Linked DNA regions of Homo sapiens: region 2 is linked to region 1. A link means that fine-mapping ties the variant in region 1 to the expression of a gene that starts in the linked region. Tissue or cell type: Th1/17 cells. Region 1 holds a variant in brackets; the other region holds the start of a gene. All regions are shown on one strand. Distances are between the middles of the regions.

Region 1 (8,264 bases):
GAGTTAAGTCTCATCTCCACACTGCATCAGCTCATCATCTACCAAGCCTCAGATGAAAGCTGCCCCTTAGATGGAAAAGGGGCCTCAATTCAGTAAAACCCAGAGGGCAGAGAGCAAGAACCAGTGGGGTGAAGTTCGAAGGGGGTAGCCACTTGCTCGCCGCATGACCCGGGCGAGCTATTTACCATCTCTGCACCCTAGATTTCTTATCTACACAAGGAATGACACCCCTTTGTAGAGTTGTTGTGAGGCTTCAAATGAAACCAGCCATGTGAAAGTGCTTATGGCCATGCCTGGCGCCAGTGCATAGTAGCTGTTATCATTGTTCTTTTTGTAATTTGTCTCTCCTGAGAAGGCGCATTGTCATGCTGCAAGTGTCCAGGAGCAAAATGGGCCATCTTGGGAGGTAGTGAGGTCCCTGACATTGGAAGGACACAAGCCAAAGCTGGATGGTCAGGTTCGAGGGAGGGATTCCTGCTTTGGCTAGGAAGCGGGCTTAGGTGGCCCTGGCGTCCCTTTGCCTCTAAGAGTCTGTGTTGCCATTTTAGAGGTGAGCCCAGTGGAGGAAGCAGGCTCAGAGAGGTTGTGCACTGGGCTGAGGCCCCCAGGCCCAGAATCCAGGCCTCCTGCCTAGACCTCCCCTGGTGAATTATTCAGGGCAGCCTCAGAACTGGGAATGCAAGAAGCTGGCAGGGTCTGCAGGGAGATGGCAGTGTCTTCTGGGCCTGGAGTATCTTCCCAGCCCAGCATCAGGTAGAAAAGCATTTGGGATGATTTGCTTTGGCACTGGCTCTGCCACTCTCCATGAGCAGAGGTGATGACGTCCCCTGCCATGCCCCAGGGAGGCAGTGGGGAGTGTTCTGGCTGTCCCAGGCTGAGAGGACCAGCTGTGCTGCATTATGCCCCAGCCCTCCTCACTGCTGGCCCCCTTGGCCTCCGCACCTATGACCACAGGGGGCAAAGAGGAAAGGTGCAACCCAGCAGGGAGGCCAAGGACAGTGTAGTGCTCTTTCCAGCTGTTCTGGAGCCTAAAATAAAAGCCATCTCAAAAAGGAAGACAGGAGCTGGGTGTAGTGGTTCACGCCTGTAATCCCAGCACTTTGGGAGGCTGAGGAGGGTGGATCACCAGAGGTCGGGAGTTCAAGACCAGCCTGACCAACATGGAGAAACCCCGTCTCTACTAAAAACACAAAATTAGCCAGGCGTGGTGGTGCATGCCTGTAATCCCAGCTACTCATGGAGTAGCTGAGGCAGGAGAATCGCTTGAATCGGGGAGGCGGAGGTTGCAGTGAGATGAGATTGCACCATTGCACTCCAGTCTGGGCAACAAGAGTGAAACTCCATCTTTAAAAAAAAAAAAAAAAAAAAAAAAAAAGGAAGACAGGTGAAAGATGGCCTGGGGCGTGGATATGGGGCAGAATTTCCTGGGTCAGAGGCTCTTGGGCTATCATACCCTGAAGTAAGGTCAACATGCCTAGGAGGAAGTCTGGCAGAGGAAGCCAATTTATACCGGGCTGGTGTACTCTCCCCAGCTCAGCCCCCAGTGTGGGCCTCAGATGCCAGGCCAGATCAGGTAGCAGAAAGGGCCCCAGAAAAGGGGAAGAGGCTAGACTTCATCCTGGCTGGGTGATGCCGGGCCTGTGCAGACACAGCAAATGCAGCACAGCAAGGCATGCTCCTTCCTCCTGAGCCTCAATTCAGCCTCAGAACTTCTCTCAGAACAACCCAGGCAGTCGCTACCATAGATTTGGCCTTGGCACAGAGGACAGACCTGATTCCCTCAGGCTTTCTTCTTTGTAAAAAAGACCGAATAGTCCCTATTCAGCCTATGTCTTAGGGTTGTGAGGAGAGCAAACCAGAGAATTTGCAAACCCTGGACAGGTGGCAGGGGTTGAAGACAACCTGGAGAGAGGTGGGAGCTGCACCTCGTGGAATTCTCTGCAGCTGCTGGAAGCAACAGATTAAGGGTGCACACAGTGGAACTTGAAAGCATGATGCCAGGTGAAGAAAAGTGCAAAACAGAATGAGATTTTATCTAACAATTTATGTAAAAAATATATGCCTATCATGCAAAGTAACAATACGGAGTTTATATGAAGAACATGTTCAAACAAAAAGTTGCACATTAAAATATTAAAAGTGACACTCCTTGAGGAGGAAGGAGAATGTGAGTGGGGTGTGGGAATAAAAGTCATGTAAAGGCACATAAAAAGGGTTGCCAGGCGCGGTGACTCACGCCTGTAATCCCAGCACTTTGGGAGGCCAAGGCGGGTGGATCACCTGAGGTAGAGAGTTTGAGACCAGCCTGACCAACACAGAGAAACCCTGTCTCTACTAAAAATACAAAATTAGCTGGGCGTGAAGGCGGGTGCCTGTAATCCCAGCTACTCGGGAGGCTGAGGCTGGAGAATTGCTTGAACCCGGGAGGCAGAGGTTGCGGTGAGCTGAGATCATGCCATTGCACTCCAGCCTGGGCAACAAGAGTGAAACTCTGTCTCATTAAAAAAAAAAAAAAAAGTGAAGGGGATCCCATGAACCAGTGTGGACCATTTGCTGTGAGCCAAGAAGGGACATCCATGTGACCTCCTGCATCTTGAGAAAAGGGAGGAAGATGCACACAAACGAGGAAGGGAGGAAGGGGCACAAAGACTGTCCCTGCACGGTCACTCAGCGCTGCAAGCTCCTGGCAGGCAGACAAGGGTTCTGTGCTTCCCTCTGTAAATGCCTACCCAACATACTCACCACATGCCTGGCACACAGAGACCTCTGTATGTGCAGTGAGGACACAGGGTCTAGGCGTTGGAGAAGGGGAAGGAGAGTTCTTTCCTGTTGCTTTCAGCACCCAGGATGGGGCTGGGCAGTGTACTTGGCCTGACCCTCTCTCTTGCCTGGAGTTTTCCTCTTTGCTTAAAGGGTCAGGGCAGGCAGGGACTGACATGGCCCTCCCTGCAGAATGAGCTGGAAGGTGTGTAGTCAGATACCATATGCTGAATGCCTAGCACTGGACACCAGGAAGTGTACAAGAAATGTTGAAAGAATGATCCTGGCCTTCCATGGACTTGGAGTCACTCAGTGAGCATGTATTTAGTGAGCACCTACTCTATTGCCAAGGCCCAGATGTGCACCAAGACCAATGGCGTGTACAAGGCAGCAGCCAGTTAGGCCTTTGCAAATGCCCAGAT[G/A]CGAAGCACTTTGGGGTTCAGAGGTAAGTCTGGGGAGGTTTCCTGGAGGACATTCTGAACTGGAAAGCAAAGAGAGGAGGAGGCTTTGGGCAGGGGTGCTTGGAGTTATTTTCCAGAGGGAACTTTGACTCTGTCTCCGGCCTTCCCTAGGGCTGCAGGGTGCAAGGACTGACTTTGTGTGCCAGGTGAGGGTATCTTCTGCACCTGAGCAGAAACTGAATCTGAGATGACTCTTTCCCCACTTTGGTGTCTCTACAGAGACCCACCTTCCTGGGATCCCTATATTGTACACACTGGGATCCCCACACCTCTCCAGGGCCTCCCTGTTTGCCCGGGGCTGGTTCCTGTCCAGTGGGGGATGTCACTGATGGTGCCCCTACCCCATTCCCACAGTGTGTACCTGCTGCTCCACCTGCAGGACCTGGAAAGGTGAGTAAGCAGCCAGCCTCTCCGCAGCGTGCTGGACTCTCACTCGGAAAGAGCTTCTAACCAGGAGTGGGCACCTGACCCTGGGGCTCCCTTTCAGCTGCATGGTCATAGGGAGGGGTCAGGAGGTTAACCCTTTATAACAGCAAACACAGTAGCTTACAGTTCCTGTGGGCTAGAAATCTGGGAGCAGCTTAACTGGGTGGTTCTAGCTCAGGGTCTCTCAAGAGGCTGCAGTCAAGATGTCAGCCTGGGCTGAGTTATCGGAGGGCTTGACGAAACTGGAGGGTCCACTTTCAAGATGGCACTCTTATGGCTGTTGGCTGGGCCTCTCCAAGGCTGCTTAAGAGTCCTTACAACGTGGCAGGTGGCCTGGCCTAGAGTGAGCCATTCAAGAGATAGAGGGCAGGCAGGAAGCCAGGGTACCTTTTCTGTCCTAGGTTTTGAAGTCACACTCATCACTTCTGCCTTATTCTATTTGTTGGAAGCAAGTCATTAAGCACAGCCCACATTCAAGGGGAGGAGAATTAATCTCCACCTCTTGAAGGGAGGAGTATCAAAGAATGTGTGGAGATATCTTAAAACCACCACAGGGTCACTGGGCGGGGTGGCTCATGCCTGTAATCCCAGAACTTTGGGAGGCAGAAGTGGGAGGATTTCTTGAGCCCAGGAGTTCGAGACCAACCTGGGCAATATAGCAAGAATTAATCTCTACAATTAAAAAAAAAAAAAAGCCAGGTGTGCTGGTGTGCACCTGTAGTCCCAACTACTTGAGAGGCTGAGGCAGGAGAATTGCTTGAGCCTGGGAAATCAAGGTTGCAGTGAGCCATGATCGTGCCATTGCACTCAAGCTGGGTGACAGAGCAAGACCCTGTCTCAAAAAAAAAAAAAAAAAAAGAAAAGAAAAAGCCACAACAGGGTCATACTTCCTTGTGCTCCAGGTAAGGACACAGGAACTTCAGAGGACTAAGGTCCTCTGAAATGATGAAGTCCTGAAGTTCCAGGGGTTTCTGGTCCTGGGGCAGCCAAGGGAGCCCTGTTCCTGCTTTGCCACTTACTTGCTGTGCAACTTTGCGTGAATCACCTAACCGCTGTGAGCTTCAGTTCCTCCTCTTAAAACGGAGATGAGATCCCTGCTTCCCGGCCTCACTGTGCTGTTGTGAAAGTGGCTGTGAAAGGGCCATAATAATCCTGGGAAGGATGATGAGGATGATGATGATGATGATGGTGGTGGTGGTGGTGGTGATGATGGTGGTGGTGGTGGTGGTGGTGGTGGTGGTGGTGGTGGTGATAGCCTGGAGCATCCAGGAGACCCCAGGGAGAGTGGAGGTCTCCCGGTTCTGGACAGAGACTCCTGTTGCTGCCCTCCCAGCGTGTGAGTGATGGCTTGTTGGAGCCACAGCCACCTGGTGGTTGCCATGACCTGCTTCTCCAGTTGCCTAACCTTAAGTAGACACATTAGGGACTAGTGAGGGTCCTGGACTAATCCAGTGCCCCTTTCACACTGCCTGGCTCCCCATAGAGAAGCTGCCTTAGGCTTGGAAGGCAAGAGGGGCCGTGCCTGGCCTGCAGCCTGCTGGCTGGTGTCAGGGGAGGAAGGAAGGCACGCAAGGTGCCTAATATAGCTTTTGCTCCAGCCCTGGTGCCGCGGAGGCATGACATGCCCCTCCCACATCGGCAGTGAGCAAGACAGGAAACTGCATTATGTGACGTGTCCTGTTTTCCCTGCATTGCTTTATTTTTAAGGCTCTCAGTGCTCAGCTTTTTAAGTCCTTTATAGAAGAGCTGGGGATTAGGACAGGCGCAGTGGCTCACACCTGTAATCCCAGCACTTTGGGAGACCGAGGCAGGCAGATCACTTGAGGTCGGGAGTTCGAGACCAGCCTGACGAACATGGAGAAACCCCATCTCTACTAAAAATATAAAATTAGCCGGGTGAGGTGGCACATGCCTGTAATCCCAGCTACTCGAGAGGCTGAGGCAGGACAATCGCTTGAATCCGGGAGGCAGAGGTTGCGGTGAGCCGATATCATGCCATTGCACTCCAGCCTGGGCAACAAGAGTGAAACTCCATCTAAAAAAACAAAAAAGCTGGGGATTCTGGAGGCCATAAGGCCAAACTGAACTGACAGAGGAGTCTGAGCAGGGCTGCAGATGGAGAGAAGCGTCCCAGCCCAGCTCTGACTAACCCTGTGTCCCTGTGGGGCCTCCTGGTCCAAGTTGGAAATGAAGGGGCTGCGTTCAGCTGTTTCCAGCACCGGGCACTAGACGCTGGCCTGGTGGACACACTAGTTCATGGGAAATGACCCTGTGGTGCCAGTGGCTCCAGGCAATTGCAGGGATTTCTGTCTATTCACACTGTAGTTTTGAGTCTGCAAATTCTGTGAGCCATTCCAAAAGCCTCTAATTCTGGGAGATTGGCACTTGGGGGTCGGGGAGAGTGGCTGCCCTGTCCTCCATTCTTCCCCTGACACTGCTCTGTGCTGCTCTCAGAAGCCCTTCCCTGCCATGACATCTGGTGGTTTCATGATCAGACACAGTGTTTCCAGTGCATTTCAATAGAGCTGTGGTTGATTGTAGGAACTGAATAGTTCTGGAAGGCTGCATGTGCATAAGAGTGTGTCCAGGATTCAGTGTCCAAGTTCTGGTTCCTTATCCCCGAGCAGGTTGGTTGCTGCTGGGATGGGGGTTGCTGGACAGCGGGAAGCAGGTGAGGCCTGGTGGTGGCCTCAAGACCTGGAAGCCGTTGTCCTAGCCCTTCCTTTCTTGGACCTCCGCCTCTCCAAGGGCCTCTTAATACCTGTGCCCTGGCTCTCAGGTCTGCATGCAAGGAACCCTTTGATGATTGGCCTACACCATTCCCTCTGAGGCCTTGGGAAAGCCCCTGCACTCTGCAGGCCTCAGTCTCCCCCTCCATGAGGTGTCCCTTGGTCCTCCCAGCTCTGACAGTCTCTACTGGATTGTGCAGTGGTGGCAGATGGTGTTGGGGGAGGTCTGTCTTGCACCTGGGGCTATAGGCTGACTCTTAAGCAGTAAGAGGATTTCACAGTTGTCGGGGACACTTTCCTCCTGGTCCCCTGAAATGTTGTCACAAGGGGTGCTCACTCAGGCCAAAGCCTGGGAAGATTCAAATTACCTCTGGGGCCATGCAGAGCCCCAGGATCCCTCAGCAGACAGGAACATTTTCTAGGAGTTGTAAATTCAGGTCTTAATTCATGATGGGGGTAGGGAAAGGAGGCATTTCGGAGGCTGCTAAGTGCCTTTTAGGGCAGTGACAGAGCTTAGAGGCCCCAGGGGCAGCAGCCTCTATTCTAAGCTGCACATCTCAGATGCCAGAACATTCTTTTCCCATCTTTGCTCTGTTCCTGCCCCATTTGTCAACTGATTCCCTATTGTTTTCTGCATGTCTTTGTCTCTCTTTTTCTGTGTGTCTATTATTATCTCTCTCTCTCTTTTTTTTTTTCTCTGCCTACCTCTATGTCATATAGAACTGAACTCTGGATTACTGCCTGTGTGGTTAGTCATAGAGGTGTCCCTCCCCCCCTTTTAAAATCAAGCATGTAGGACATAATTTTTAAAAGCAGTCATCCTTTTTGTCCTCTCAGAGAGAGAGAGAGAGAGAGAGAGAGAATTGCATTTTGAGTGTGGCCTCTGGGCAGTGTCCTTCTGATTATAGCAGGAGGAGCTGCCTGAGGTTTAGAGCATGGGAAGTGAGTGAGCATGTGTGTGTCTACATGTGTGTATGTGAGTGTGTCTGTGTGTGAGTGTGTGTGGATGGGGATGTGTGCATGGTGCACACGTGTGAGTTTTAGTGCCAAAGACCCTTCTCTAACGGAATGTTCTTTTCTCTCTCCTCGGTGCTGTTGGGGACGTGGATGTAAGTGTTCCAGACAGGCGTGCTCTTCTGCAGACATTTGCTGCCTTCCATTAATGCTCCCGCTAATGTGTGCTGTGTGGGATGTTTTTGCTAACCTGGGGGAGGTTCTGCTGCACTGCAGGGGTGCGGCAGCCCTGGGCCCACTGCAGGCTACACAGGCCTTTAAAGGGCTGAGAGGCTCTGCCAGTTTCTCCCTCCCTCCCTTCCCCACAGAGAGAAGAGGTGGAGCCTGCAGCCCTGGCTGCTGTAGCCCTGCTGACACATTTGCTAATACAGAAACATCAGCCAAGGCCACACACCCATTCCCCTGCTGTGGAAGACGGCAGAAACCCTGCCCTTTCCTAGAAGCAACCCAGCTTTGGGCATCATAGTGGCAGCTCTGCAGGCTCAAGGCCGTGGCCACCATCACCTGAGGTTTGCAAGTTGTTATGGCCATGACCTTGGGCGGGAGACCCTCCTCCCACACACATTGTCTCTGGGAGCCAATTAGAGTACTAAGATGTGGATAGCAATACTCTTTCAGGCCTGTTGCCAGGGGTAAGGACCTGTTGGGTCACCAATCTTTAGATCTTCAGGGACAAGAACATGGAGGAGGCAGAGCATGGGATTTTCTACCCAGCTACTCACTCTCCTGCTCCTCCTGGTGCCCCTCTTTTGGGACTATGTTCTGTGGGGTTCATTTCTCCATTTATACTCCTTCCTGATATAAAAAGGAGTTAGGTCTACTTGTGGAAATATATCTAAAGTAGCAAATCAAAGTAAGAAAATTGAAGCATGGG
Region 2 (8,000 bases), 120 kb after region 1:
ATAGGACTACACTGTAACAAGCACTTTTGTGAAGTTTTAATTCCTGCATATTCAACAAATGTTGAATAAATGAGATGAGGCAATTTGTTCAAGGATATATCCAGTGAATAAAAAAGCTAAATTTTGCTGTCCACACCATTTACTTTATTTTTACCTCATTAGAGATAATAAAGACAGTAACTGTCTGCTCTTGAATCATATGAGAGAACTTCCTTGAAAAAAATTATTCTAATGATGATGTTCATGTATAACCATGTATTATTAACCACGTAAATAGTAACCCACACTAATTCAAAATCTCTTTCAATTGTTCTTTTAAGTAAATCTCATTGCTCATTCACTCACTATTCTCCACCTTTCCATTTTTTGTCCTTTAAACTCCTAGCTTCTCCCCGCTCAGCTACTCTCTTCAAGAATGCTCTCCTATTGCTCTTCCTGTCACTGTCTCCTTACCTAACCCTTACACTTCTCTCATAGTAAGCACTCAACCATTTGCTGAATGAACACTGATAGAATACTTACCAAGTTTTCTTTTTTGGAATTACTACTTCTTCAATCCCTAATGTAAAAAAGAAAACATGAATCAGTTTCCTAGTACTACAATGGAATCCAACGTGTTGATATAAAAATAGAATTCAATATATTTTAAAATATACCTGTTACATCAGTTCCTTCAACCTTTGAGAGGGTTGCACTACCAGAATAAAATCTGCAAAAAAACAAAAGCCTTAAATCTAATAGTCATTAATGAAGTACCCAGCTCACCTCCACCTATGTGTACTTTGAGCCCAAATTCTCCAATTATCACGGATTAAACTGGATAACTCATGTCAATGAACGCTGAGAAGACAGTCTGTACACATGTTCAATATCATTAAGGAATGGATACAAGATATGGACAAGACTGTCAAAACTTTTTTTTTTTTTTTTTTAGAGACAGGGTCTTGCTCCATTGCCTAGCCTTTAGTGAAGTAGTGCAATTATAGCTCACTGAACCCTTGAACTCCTGGGCTCAAGTGACCCTCCTGCTTCAGCCTCCTGAGTAACTAGGACTACAGGCATATGCCACCATGCCCGGCTAGACAAAAGTTTTGGAAGCAAGCAATCTCATTACATAAATGGCAGAGAGGGAGGAAAGTTTTTAATAGCACTTGAACAATCTGGTTTGAAATGAAGAACTTTCAACTTCAGGAACCCAAAACACTATGATGTTTAAAAGAACAATTCAGTGAGCTCTTGCTTCTATACAGATACTGCCCTGATCAGAAAGGACTACCTCACTTAAAGCAATTACAACATAGGGAAGATGACCCATGGCTTCTCATTCCACTTCTTTCAACAATCAAGAATGTACCAAATACATAAGGCCTGATTTAGACTTGGAATTGCTGATATTTTCTATTTTCAGAGGTTCAATATGAAATCCTTTTTAAACCAAAATATAGAATCATTGGCCCATGACTGAGTTTTTAAGTGTTCTGTTTAAGTGTTCTGATCACACTAAAAACACAGTCAACACACCACAGATAATGTGACGGTTAGTATTATCTTGTGTTTCCCCTTACTAAATGGCATCAGTAACATTCAGAAAATTGTCAAGATGTGATTGCACAGACAGATACTTCCTCCAGTAGTATCTGGTTTCAGGTATCATTTAAAACAAGAATACCCCTCTACGTTAAGGACATTTCAGAAAGAGATCAACTCTTTCAAGTTTCTGAGATCAACTCTTTCAAGTCACACTATTTGTTTCTCATGACCTTAAAACAGAGATCACAGTTATTTTGAGAACGGATGCTGAGGAAGAGATTCTGCTTCAGGCAAAGAAAATGAGTAGAAAAATGCTAACGATGGCTACCAGGAAACGGAGGACTGGCATTGAATGGCAGCACAAAGGTTTCTGCAGTATCAGATGGAGTGGTTTCTCTTTCTTGAGGGGAACTAAGGGAGAGTACATATAAAAACATATTGTAAATTACATACCCCACTTATACCTCACAAACTTTTCGGATGGTTATTACCAACTCTAGTCTGCAGATGAGGAAATCTGTCTATTATCATCCAATTAAGTGAATGGCAAACACTAAACCTAAAATTAGGCTTTTAGCAAGTTTTCACTACAAATTACTGCCTCTCATATTCCCACAATGCCACTGTTTGTACTGAGTGAAAAAAAAATTACACAGATAGGTCATACATGTTCCAAGCTATAACTATCACAGATCAAAAGGGCATAGTCAGATCTTTTAGACTTTTCTGCTTTTACGAAAACCTGATAACTTCTTTAGCCAAAGTCCCCACGGTGGCGACCAGAGACTGCCTTTTATTTGGGAAGATCTTGTACGTTCTCCTCGCTCCTCCTGATTGGGTTAAAATGAGTAATGGCGGATAATTTTTAATTTGGGGTAGTGTTGCTAATAGCCACACTCACTGGAACGCAAGCTTCATGAGAGCAGGGTCCTAGCTTTGCGGATGGTGTTAACTACAGAATATTGCAAGCAACCAATAAGTATTTCTCTAATGAATAAATGCGTTGCGAATCCTATTTCAAAGGGCCACCTCCGCGTACCTGGTCTTAAGGGCACGCGACCGTTAAGGGCGCGCATGAGCAAACCATTTCATCGTGCCTACTTCCACAGCCAGCTGGGAAACATAGGACTAAGGTGACTCCGCGGTCTTCTTCGCGGATACCCTAAGCGTCTCTTACCTGCAGCTGCGTGCCTGTTCACACAAACCCGCCCGCCGACCCGTCAGCGGCTGGCCAAGCCTGCTGCGGAGGCCCAGCCAGCGAACAGCAGATACAACCGCCATCTTTGATTTCTCTGCAGAGCATGTTGGGAAAGCGTGCCTCGACCTTCAGGAAGGTGGGGCGCAGTGGGCGGGGAGCAGGGAACAGCTCCGCTATTGGCTGAAGCGGAAGAAGACGAAAGCAATCATAAAATGGGAGGTTGCAAGCTCATGGTTTGAAAGACTTCGTCACGGAAGCTAAAAGCTCTATACACCCGATTTGCCTCGGAGGAATTTTCCTAAATGATTATTTTGATGTCTTATATATCTTTGATTGTTTTCAAAACAAAAGAGCGAGCAGAGAGTCGTACAACTATTTGTTCCCCCCCCATGTAGAAGTGATCTCATCCACGTAAATGTCGTTCCTGCGACCGCTTCCGCGCGCAAGCGCACGTTGAATCGCGTGGTGACTCCGGGCTTGAGGTTGAATTAAGAATAGTCAGGTGGTGAGTGGAACGTCTCTTGGGGTGTCGGAATTCAAAACGGACCTGGAGGATGTTGATCTCCAAGAACATGCCCTGGCGGCGGCTGCAGGGCATTTCCTTCGGGATGTATTCGGCTGAAGAGCTCAAGTAAGGAGTTGGTCGGGTAGCGTGCCCAGCCTGGATCTTGAGGTCGGCGCCCTAAACTACGATTCCCAGAAGCGCTTTTGCCCAGTCTATCCTCTTGAGTCCAGGCTTGTCTGGCGCTTGTCCTGCTGGGAGCCGTAGTTCTGGGAACGTTCCTGGGCCGGCGTGGACTGCCTGGATAAGAGGCCGGTGGTGCTGGGGGAAAGAGTTTGCGCTGAGGTAGGGGAATATAAGGGTGGGGAGGGTCCTGGTCTGCAGCGTTATCATCTGCCAGTCTCCTCGTTAACTAACAAGCATTTGTGGAATTAACCATAGTGTACCTGACATGGTTAATTAGGCACGTAGTAAGTTTCCTCTTGTTTGTAAAATGATTGTCCTTCAAGTGTCAGTTCAGGCGTTAACTTCTCTTTGCTAGGACCCTGCTATATTCTCGGTCTGGTTGTTAAATCAAGGGAACTCTCTTTAGTCTTCATTTTGATCAAGGTAGCATTTGACATTCTCCAATGCACTCTCTTGAAACTTTCCTTTCTTCCAGAACCTTATTTGTCTTCAAGTTCTCCTATTTTTATGACAAATACTTCTACCTCCCTCTCTTCCTCTATCGATCTATAACCTCACAAACATTTATTGAGCATCCAGTTTTTTCCAGGCACCAAGCTAGGCGTTAATGACACATTGGTGAGCAAGGTCTGTACCTCATTTTACTCCTTAAATGTTGATGTTCTTCAAGATTCTATTCTAGTAATGTTTTCTTCATGGTAAATATTGTCCCTAGACAATCTCACCACTTTCATGATTTATAGTCTCAAATTTAAATCCCCAACGCAAATTTATTTCCCTGATTTTCAGACCCATTTGTTCAGCTGTCTGTACATCTTTAATTGAATTTCACACAGAGATCTTAAATGCATATCAAAAACTCAACATGGCCTAAATGCATATCAGAAACTCAACATGGCCGGGCACGGTGGCTCACGCCTGTAATCCCAGCACTTTGGGAGGCCGAGGCCGGCGGATCACGAGGTCGGGAGATCGAGACCATCCCTGGCCAACATGGTGAAACCCCGTCTCTACTAAAAATACAAAAATTAGCTGGGCGTGGTGGCGGGCACCTGTAGTCCCAGTTACTCGGGAGGCTGAGGCAGGAGAATCGCTTGAACCCAGGAGGCGGAGGTTGCAGTGAGCCGAGATTGTGCCACTGCACTCCAGCCTGGCGACAGAGCAATACTCTGTCTCAAAAAAAAAAAAAAAAAAACTCAACACGGCATCCCTCTTCAAAGGGAGGGGTTACTTACCCCTCCAAAATGGTGTACGTAGTGCAAAATAGTCACTAGAAACTGGAAAATTATTCTAGATCTCTCCTGACATATAACTTATTTATTGGGCTCTTACTTTGTGTCACCTACATGTCTATTTGTTCTTAGTCTCCTTTTTCTCCCAATTGCTACTGTGTTGCCTCTGGCCCTTATCTCATATTTGAATTGTCTTTTCCTTCCACCCTCCCCTTACACCTCTCAAGTGCATGCTCCACACTGCTGTCAAAATTATTCTTGCAAAGTGCAAATGTAGTCATGCTACTGTCACCCTTAAAACCCTCCAAATGTTCTCCATTTCCCTCAGATAAAGTATATTTTCTTAGCATAGCCTGCAAAGTCTCCCATGATCAGACCAATGCTGATTTTAGCTATAACATCATCCCTTCTTCAGCCCTATTAAACCACCTGCATATTCCAGAAACCGCCATCATATTTCAACATCTGGGCCTTTCTTTAAGCTATTCCCTCTGCATGCAGTGTCCTTTCAGCCAAAAGGAGGTACTTCCCTCTGTCCCCTACCCAACATACACACCTGAAAGCTCAGTTCACCTCCCTTGTTTTGTGAGGTCATTTTGCACATGATACAGTTGTCTGTCATGGTGCTTTAGTGACTTTTTGTGCTTATGTATATTTGTCTTCCTCCACTATCCTTGAGCTTCTTATATGTGTCACTCTTGTCTTTTATCCTCAAGTCTGAATAAATGGATGAATAAACTCCTGAGCCACAGCTCTGGTATCATTGGTAACAGTGTGCTAGCCCAGAAATTCCAATTATATCATCACTGCCATAAGTGGATACGATTTCATCCAAAAGCAGAAGTGTTTTAAGTTGCCTGAATTTTTAAAAAGATAATTGTGGAGTTTTCAAACAAGTTTAGAGTTGAGACATTTCAATAATACTGCCACCTTTTATTGTGCCAGGTTCTAATAGCTTCCCATCTCACTCAGAGTAAAAACCAAGTCTTTACAAATGGCCTGGAGGGGTCATTTCAGTCTCCTGTTACCTCTCTGATCTCACCTCTATTCTGGCTACCCTGACCTCCTTGCTGCATCCAGAGCACCACGGGCACACATCCACCTCAGGACCTTTGCACTCCCTGCTTCTTCCTCCTGTAAAACCCTCTGCCCAGGTGACTGTATGGCCTGCTCCCTCAACTCCTTCAGCCTTTGCCCAAGTTCCTCCTTAGTGGGCTTCTAGGACCACTTGCCTACTCTGCTCTTCCCTTTCCCTGCATTATTTTTCGTCATAGCCCTTTCTGCCGTCTAACAGACTATACATTTTGTGTCTGTTCCCGTTCCTCCAATAGAATGTAAGGCCTGTAAGCATAGCAGTTCTTGTCTGTTTCCTTAGCACTTAACACTGTCTGGCACACAGTGAGCACTCTGGGTATTTGTTGAGTGTATGAATAGATGGATAGAGGAGCTAGCTGCTCAGTGCTTGGCACTTTCAGTCCTTAACGACACCCATTCTCAGTTCTTAACAACACCATTTGTGGTGGCACCTCCAGTAAAAAATTCAGGCCCAGAGAACAAAATGTCTCTCTAGGAAGTGGCAAAGGTCATCTTCAAACCTAAGTCTATTGATCTCAAACTCTACTGACTGGTGGAATCCTTGCTAGTTGCCCCTACTCTTCATCCCACTCCTGTAATGGTGGGAGGGACTTTCTCCTCTACAAAGAGAGAGGAACTTTGTTTGACACTGTATTTTCTGTATGTTATCTTCTAATCATCCCAATAGAGCTGCTGTGATGCCCAGACTTCAGGTGAGAAAAAAATTAGGTAGTTATCAAAGGATACAGTCAGCAGAGTGAAAGGGCAACCCATGGAATGGGGGAAAATATTTGTAAATTATATATCTGATGAGAGATTGATATCTAGAACATAAAAAGAACTCCTACAACTCAACAACAACACAAAATTCAATTTTAAAATGGACAAAGGACTTAAACAGACATTTTTCCAAAGAAGACATACAGATGGCCAGTGAGTATGTGAAAAGATGTTGAACATCACCAATTTTAGGGAAATGCAAATAAAAAGCTCCTCAAATCCAGTAGGGTGCTACTATCAGAAAAACAGAAAGTAGTAAGTGTTGGCAAGGGTGTGGAGAAAGTGGAAGCTTTTTGTACACCATTAGTGTGAATGTAAAATGGTGCAACCACTATGGAAAACAGTAGGGTGGATTCTCAAAAAACTAAAGACAAAATTACCATGTGATCCAGCAATTCTACTTCTGGATGTGTATCCAAGGAATTGAAAGTAGGGTCTCAAAGAGATATTTGTATACCTATGTTCATAGCAGCATTATTCACAATAGTGAAAAAGTGGAAACTACCCAAGTGTCTATCAATGGATGGGTTGATACATAAAATGTGGTATATACATGCAATGGGATATTGTTCAGCCCTAAAAAAGGAAAAAAGTTCAACACATCCTATAACATGGATGAACCTTGAGGGCACGGTGCTAAGTGAAATAAGCCAGTCACAAAAGGACAAGTACGGTGTGATTCCACTTAATATAAGGTACCTAGAGTAGTCAGATTAATCAAAACAGAAAGTAAAATGATGGTAGCAGAGGAGATGAAGAATTACTGTATAATGGGTACAGGGTTTCAATTTTACAAGATGAAAAAGGGTTCTGCAGATGGAGAGTGGTGATGGTAGCACAATGCAAATGTACTTAATACCACTGAACTGTACTAATTGAAACAGTTATGATGAATTTATATATATTTTATTACAGTTTCAAAAATTAAGATTAAAGAACAAAAGGTAAGTAATTTGTTCAATGTTACCCAGTTCAGGGTTGCAGGTGGACTCTAGATTTGTGGGAAGAGACCACACGCACAACTTTTGAGTTAGATCAAGTTTCTCATGAAATTAGCTTACTGGCAGCAAGGTGACCATATAGACAAGAGCCACAGCAGCAGATCTGCCTCCCTGTCGCCTTGGCCCTTAGAGTGACACTGGCCATGCAACATAGAATCTTCTAGAGCTGAGCAGCTTAGTTCCTGATAGACTAACATTGTTTTACACTCAGAACATGTCACCACTCATGAAAACTTGACACTATTTTTGTGCTTTATTAAAGGGAGTGTTTACATCATTAGGGGACTCTCGTTTCAGCCTTCGGATTTCCTCTAGGCTGTCAGATTGGGATGGTTTCTTTGTCTTTATTTTCTAAATCAGAAAGGAGAAAATTGTAAAAGCAAAGTTAGCCTACTAAACATAGTTGTGTCCTATGGGAGCACCTTTCAAACCAAACATAAAATGTGATGAAACCTTTTTTAAGGTTTGACTAAATGTGTTTAATGTTGTCAAATTTA

Alleles and levels. Positions count from the first base shown, and alleles are read on the strand shown. Sizes are in standard deviations (SD) of each study's normalised expression.
In carriers of allele G in region 1, the expression in Th1/17 cells of the gene that starts at base 3,173 in region 2 tends to be lower than with A alone (large effect, 1.2 SD a copy in Schmiedel 2018).

What was found. PIP is the estimated chance that this variant, and not a neighbour inherited with it, causes the effect.
Region 2: it holds the start of POLR1A, and the variant in region 1 is fine-mapped to the expression of POLR1A in Th1/17 cells (Schmiedel 2018, PIP 0.95).

Annotation. Positions count from the first base shown.
Region 1 is chr2:86,222,710-86,230,973 of GRCh38, reverse strand. It overlaps REEP1 (receptor accessory protein 1), which reads left to right. Exons shown (of 9, transcript NM_001371279.1): 7 at 3,576-3,611. Among named protein-coding and RNA genes, the nearest start is that of MRPL35, 27 kb to the right of the region's middle. RefSeq lists an enhancer at 1-262. The variant G/A (reference allele first, on the strand shown) is at 3,183.
Region 2 is chr2:86,101,059-86,109,058 of GRCh38, reverse strand. POLR1A (RNA polymerase I subunit A) reads left to right here and starts at 3,173. Exons shown (of 34, transcript NM_015425.6): 1 at 3,173-3,359. The coding sequence starts at 3,283. It overlaps PTCD3 (pentatricopeptide repeat domain 3), which reads right to left and starts at 2,824. Exons shown (of 24, transcript NM_017952.6): 1 at 2,708-2,824; 2 at 657-709; 3 at 523-559. The coding sequence starts at 2,811. It overlaps LOC124907852 (a long non-coding RNA gene), which reads right to left. Exons shown (of 2, transcript XR_007087121.1): 2 at 7,738-7,854. RefSeq lists enhancers at 2,514-2,773, 3,154-3,363, 3,564-3,653.